2 linked regions of the Homo sapiens genome follow. The protein of the gene in region 1 purifies or fractionates together with the protein of each later gene. This does not show direct contact. Each region holds a gene or a part of one and is shown in the gene's direction. Other genes may lie near its edges.

The links. The genes of interacting proteins can lie anywhere in the genome.
Region 2: the proteins of SLC30A7 (region 1) and CNOT10 purify together in Homo sapiens (affinity purification with mass spectrometry; one large-scale study listed by BioGRID and IntAct). This does not show direct contact.

What each region holds. Positions count from the first base shown.
Region 1 is NC_000001.11:100,975,966-100,979,208, forward strand, and holds part of SLC30A7 (zinc transporter 7), read left to right. Parts: 3' UTR 1-3,243. UniProt on the Homo sapiens protein: Zinc ion transporter mediating zinc entry from the cytosol into the lumen of organelles along the secretory pathway.
Region 2 is NC_000003.12:32,691,557-32,695,215, forward strand, and holds part of CNOT10 (CCR4-NOT transcription complex subunit 10), read left to right. Parts: intron 1-2,607; exon of another isoform or gene 2,608-2,684; intron 2,685-3,659. UniProt on the Homo sapiens protein: Component of the CCR4-NOT complex which is one of the major cellular mRNA deadenylases and is linked to various cellular processes including bulk mRNA degradation, miRNA-mediated repression, translational repression during translational initiation and general transcription regulation.

The sequences.
Region 1 (3,243 bases):
TTCTTTTATTGTTTTATCTTCACAGAAAATAAAAGGTGTTAATTTGCTTTTTAAAACAAATTTAATTATCACATTTTAAATTACTTTGTGGACTGTGTTTTCAAAACTTTGCAAATTCATCTGTTACACAGAAAATTTTGACTTAAAACATCTGCTGAATTCCAAATTTCTGTAATAGCTACTGTATCTGTGATAAACTTTCCTATATCTTTCCTTGCCATTTCTATGGATTTTATAATGAAAGAAAAAGGCATTGGAGACTGAAGGCAGAAATGGTTGTGACAGTGCTGTTTGGCTTTTTCATTCTTCAAATGCCAAGTCATCCACTTTGTTTTCCTGTTTAGGCTTTGCACAAATACAATTGCTTTCAGGAATCCTAAAGCAGCATTTTATTGAGTTTGAATTATTAAAGGTACAGAGGAAATGTGGTGATGTAGAACTTTTCCTAACACAGGTATCTAGGAAGTAAGTGCTGAGTTGATTTTCTAGGTTCTTACGTATTTGAAAAATAAAATTGCAATTCGAGATAAGTGCTTGAGCACTCTACTTAAGTATTCTCTGTGTTTTATGAAGAGAAAATGATCTGATTTTCCCTTATACTTCATTTTACAATACATATTCCCTTTTAACTTAAAAAAATTGTAAATGTGGGAGAAAAAACCCTGCAGGATGGAAACAATTATTAAGAATGTAGATCAATAAGTACTTTTTAGTGATGTGGCAGAAATCCCTGTTGATTCTAAGTTTTAGAGTGTCTTTTCCCCTATTTCTGACCTACAACTATAAACTACTCTCTATTAGGAGAACTAGACCACTTTCTTCATTCTTTTCTAAACTGCTGCAGATTGCCGTGAACTCTATCAATAGTCTCTTTTCCGCAGGCAAAGTGGCATTTTCTAAACATGTTTGCTTACTGCCAGGTGGTTTGAAATCTATGATTTACTGCAGTAGTATGTGCTTAAAACAACTGTTGAGGTCTTTTAAGCAGGAAAGTTCAAAAGGAAGTGTCCTGATAATGGTACTGGTTTTTCTACAAATATAAGTAGTCATTAGAAGTTTGCAACCACCACCAAGTCTGAGAGAACTCTGGGATATTCTGTGGGTTTTGGCATATTAGATAGAGAAAATGACAGATCTAGATGAAGGGAGCTTTTGGATGTGTGCCTTTAAAAACTGATTATGTATAAATACTGATATTTCACATACGGAGATATTTGAAGACCCAAGTCTGCCTTTCACAGAGCCCTCCATTCCAAGTTTAGTTTTTGTCAAAATATGAATCATTTTATTTGACTGTACTATCAGTACACAAATGCATGAGTATGTTTATACAGTGTTAGACTGATGTGAATTTGCATTTGTTACATTACATTGCCAGCGCATATCATTTAGCAAGTTGGCATTAACATTTATGCTTTAATTAAATGCCAGTATACCTATGTGTGCAGCAGTAAAAAATTAGTGAGAAAAAGCAACTTTTTGTCACTCTTAGGAAATATTTTGTCTTATTAGTGTTCTTGGCACATGTATATTACTAAAGTAGATAATTCCAATGAGAAATACTACCAGATTATTGTTATAAAATTAATTTACAATGTCCCTGATATTGAGCTAACTCTTAAAAAAACCAAACAAAACTCGTATCTGAGTGTAACTTTGCCAATATTTTAAAAGCCAAAATATTCTCTGGACAACAAATTTGTATTGCTCAGGGACAGTTTACCTTGCCTGGTAAACCTTCCCAAACAGAAATATAGCTATACTATCTTTGGTTTTGTTTTTTTGTTTTTTTTGTTTGTTTGTATTAGATGGAATTTCACTCTTGTCGCCCAGGCTGGAGTGTAGTGGCGCAGTCTCAGCTCACTGCAACCTCCACCTCCCGGGTTCAAGTGATTCTCCTGTCTCAGCTCCCTGAGTAACTGGAATTACAGGTGCACGCCACCACGCCCGGCTAATTTTTGTGTTTTTAGCAGAGACAGGGTTTCACCACGTTGGCCAGGGTGGTCTTGGACTCCTGACCTCAGGTCATCCTCCTGCCTCGGCCTCCCAAAGTGCTGAGACTACAGGTGTGAGCCACCGTGCTCAGCCACTAGCTTTGGTTTTTTAAACATAGATTATATTCCTCAAGATGAAGGGCTTAACATATCCACAGCTTCCTCAGTTTGCTAACTCCCCATGCATCTTTGTGAAGGACAGTATCTAGTTTATCTGTAGGTCAGTGTTCCTTGTGCTGTCATTTCCCTTATATCTGGAATTTGTCAGCATTCCTGAAAACCTACACGTGTATATCAGTAACCAAAATGCTATGCCTTTTTTGCACCTTTGTACAGCAGCCAAATCATGAACTCAAAATGTATTTGATCACAGTTCTATAATGTTTTTACCTACCTATTATGGAATAATCAGTTTTTACAGAGATTATTAATATGGTAGAACCCTGTTATGTAATTCCAAAACTTAAGAACCATATTTACATTGCTTAACACAGAATTTTACATCTAAGCAAGGACTGGCTTTAGAAGCAGTGTAGTTCTACCTCTCATTTTACAGATGAGAAAACCGAAGCCCAGAAAAACTCTCATTTGCTCAAAGTCACAGAGAAAATTAGTGGCAAAGCCAAAAAGATTCAGATCTTCTGACTCGAAGTTGAGAGTTCTTTATACTCTATTATGCTGCCTCTCCAGTGTAATATTTGCCTTTCTGTAAATGGGATTAAATATGATTTGTAAATAAAGGACATCTGACCTCCTTTTTTGGTACATTAAGGCACTTTATAAATGGACTTTTATTGTCTCATTTTTCGTATATAATTATTTCCATCATATTCTTTATGGAAGATGCAATTAATTTTAACTTTTTTACTCTTATAAAACCAGTTCCTGACATTTTAAAAAACAATATCTGTAAAATGGATCCTTTTATGAGTGAATTTTTCTGCTAATTGCCCAAGGCTAAATCCAATTTAAGGATTGCTTAGTTTCTTTATTTTGTTTATGGTCTCTGAACTGGTATTTTTTTATAAACCAGGCTAATTCACAGGTCATACCATTTCATTCTTGTCGTGTTGGCTTCCAGTCACTGGAAAAGCTTTTGCATTTTAAAGATTTTTAGAGCCATGCAAAACTGGGCATTAAATGTTGCATAAAGCAAATCTTTTAAGTAAGGTAAAATGTTGAAGTCTTAACCAGAATTCCTACAACTAATTACTAAAACTGCTATTTCTAACTCTTCATGAAAGCATTA
Region 2 (3,659 bases), on another chromosome or scaffold:
TCGGCCTCCCAAAGTGCCGATGTGAGCCAACACACCTGGCTCTAGCTATGACTTTTAATGTTGAATCATTTCAAAATAGGTTATAAACATCATAACACTTCATCTCTAAATATTTCAACATGCGTTTCTTAAAAATAGGGACATTCACCTATGTAACCATGATGCCATTGTCATAGTTTAGACAATTCATGTTTTAATATATTAAAAATTTCCTGCCAGCCAGGCATGGCGCCTCACGCCTGTAATCCCAGCACTTTGGGAGTCTGAGGTGGGAGGATCAGTTGAGTTCAGGAGTTAGAGACCAGCGTAGGTAACATGGTGAAACCCTGTCTCTACCAAAAATGTAAAAAATTAGTGGTGGCGCATGCCTGTAGTCCCACCTACAAGGGAGGGTGAGGTGGGAGGATCATTTGAGCCTGGGAGGCAGAGGTTGCAGTGAGCCAAGATAAACACCACTGCACTCCAACCTGGGTGACTGAGTGAGACCCTGTCACCAAAAAAAAAAAAAAAAAGCCAATTTCCCGCCAGGCATGGTGGTTCATACCTATAAATCCTAGCACTTTGGGAGGCCGAGGTGGGTGGATTGCTTGAACCTAGGAGTTCAAGTCCAGCCTGGGCACCATGGTAAAACCCTGTCTCTACAAAAAATACAGAAAGTTAGCTGGGTGTGGTGGCATGTGCCTGTAGTCCCAGCTATGGCTATATTTTAAAAATTTATTTGTAGGCACAGGGTCCCAATATATTGCCCAGGCTGGTCTCAAACTCTTGGGCTGAAGGAATCCTCCCAGCTTGGTCTCTCAAAGTGCTGGGATTACAGGTGTAAGCCACTGCACCCAGCTTTATCTCCTGTATTTTCTTAAACTCTAACTTATTTCTACAGGCTTGATTAGATATAGGTTCAACATATTTTTGAGAAACTTTGTAGGTGATGTTATATACTTTATTTTCTGTATAAAGTACATAATGTCAGGTTATCCAGTATTAGTGATGCTAAATTTGATCAATTTGAGGTGCTGACAGGAACATCTTTTTCCATTTTCAGTTAGAGGTAATTTATGGAGTAATTGGCATTTCGTAAATATCCACTGTTGTTGATTCTTTCCTCAATCAGTTGTATTATTGAGGGTTACAAAATGATTTTTACCTAGTTCTATTGTAGTTTCTACCTTTGTTAGTGAATATTCTTCTTTAAAGAGTAGCTCTCCTGGGCTGGGTACAGTGACTCATGCCTGTAATCCCAGCACTTTGGGAGGCCAAGGTAGGCAGATCGCTTGAGCCCAGGAGTTCAAGAGCAGCCTGGGCAACATGAGAGCCTGTCTCTACGAAAAGATTGAAAAAACTTAGTTGGTGTGCTGCTGCGTGCCTGTAGTCCCAGCTACTTGGGAGGCTGAGGTAGGAGGTCACTGGAGCCCAGGAAGTCGAAGCTACAGTGAGCCGTGATCACAGCACCGCACTCTAGCCTGGGCTACAAAGTGAGACCCTGTCTCAGAAACAACAACAAAAAAGAATAGCTTTCCCATATTGACTGTTAGTCTTCCCAGAAAGCCATGTTAAATGCTAAAAGCTTAATTCATTATTTTCAATTACCAGTTTTCAGAACAAGGAGTTGATGTGGTAGTGACCTATGTTTGATATTTAAAGTGGTTTTTTTTCTTTTTTAAATTTAATTAATTTTTTTGAGGCAGGCTTTCACTCTGTTGCCCAGGCTGGAGTACAGGGGCATGATCTTGGCTCACCGCAGCCTCGACCTCCCGGATTCAAGTGATCCTCCCACCCCAACCTCCCAAGTAGCTGGGACTACAAGTACATGCCACCACACCTGGCCAGTTTTTCTGTTTTTCTGTAGAGACAGGGTTTTGCCATGTATCCCGGGCTGGTCTCAAACTCCTGGACTCAAGCAAGCCTCCTGCCTTGACTGCCCAAATTGCTGGGATTACAGGCGTGAGTAAGTGTTTTTAATATTAGAATTTAGAGTAATATATTGGTCTTTTTTTTTTTTTTTCCAGACAGGGTCTCACTCTGTCACCCAGGCTGGAGTGCAGTGGCATGAACACTGCTCACTGCATCCTTGACTTCCCAGGCTCAAGCGATCCTCCCACCTCAGCCTCCCAAGTAGCTGGGACTATAGGCATGCGCCACCACGCCTGGCTAACTTTTGTATTTTTTGTAGAGATGAGGTTTCGTCATGTTGCCCAGGCTAGTCTTGAACTCTTGAGCTCAAGCCATCCTCCCACCTTGACCTCCCAAAGTGCTGGGATTACAGGTGTGAGCCACCATGCCCGGCACTTATATTAGTCTTATGATTTCAATTTAAAATGTATAATTGACTGAATATTGATTTATACTTGTGAATTTAAATTGAAACCTTATTGCAGTTATTTTATTTTGTGGACATTAGAGAGTACCTAAGAGTCACTATAAGTTTAATTTTTTAGGTATGTAAGTTATTCTCAGGAAATTTTTTTTTCTTGACACATGTTAAAATACAAAAATTTTGTCTTTTTAAGTCTAGCAATTATACTTAAAATTGAATATATTGTTGGGGTTTGGTGGGGGGGTTGCAATAGTTCTCACTTGATAAATTTTTTTTTTTTTTAATTTAAAAAAAGTGTTTGGTACTCTACACTTTCAGAGAAACTTCTCCAGTAACAAACTGTAGAAATGATCCCTGAAAGTGTAGTCTTGGTAAAATTTTTTAAGTAGTTAACATTTTATGTTTGAAGATGTTATGTTGAAGGTGAACTTTGAAATGAGTTTAGACATTCATCACAGGCCTTTAAAATTAGACCTCCAAGTAGAATAAGTTGTCTAAGTTCGGTGTAAAAATTTGAGTAAAATCTAGGCTTTTTGAATTTGTAACTTTAATAAATTAAGTATTAATATTTTAAAACTAGAGTAAATCTCAGTCTTTTCTATGCATAAAAACTCCTCCTCTTAGATGTGAAAACAAAATACTCATCAGCAGTGGCAATATTCTGCTTTGCCTAGCTTCCTTAAAGCATGCTGATATTGTTTTTTCTTCTTTCAGTTTTTTGTTTGTTTGTTTGTTTTTTGAGGCAGTCTTGCTCTGTTGCCTAGGCTGGAGTGCAGTGGCATGATCTCGGGTCACTGCAATCTCTGCTTCCTGGGTTCAAGTGATTCTCCCGCCTCAGCCTCCTGAGTAGCTGGGATTATAGGTGCGCACCACCACGCCCAGCTAATTTTTGTATTTTTAGTAGAGATGGGGGTTTCACCATGTTGGTCGGAATGCTCTCAAACTCCCCACCTCGTGATCTGCCTGCCTTGGCCTCCCAAAGAGCTGAGATTATAGGTGTGAGTCACCGCGCCCAGCCTAACTTTTATATTTTTAGTAGAGATGGGATTTCACCATGTTGGCCAGGCTGGTCTCAAACTCCTGACCCCAGGTGATCCTCCTGCCCTGGCCTCCCAAAGTGCTGGGATTACAAGCCTGAGCCACCGTGCTGGCCATGCTGATATTATTGATTTGAATTTCTGTTCCTTTATTTCTACACTACTGGGCAGGATGCTCAATTCTGTAACATTGCTTGTTACAAATGGCTTATTCTTTGGGCTGCGAAGTGTGTGCTTTCCCATTTCTCCAGCTCCTCTTGTCCAGTGGAGGGAATATGGTTTAGTGAATAAACCATTTGAGGTTTTGG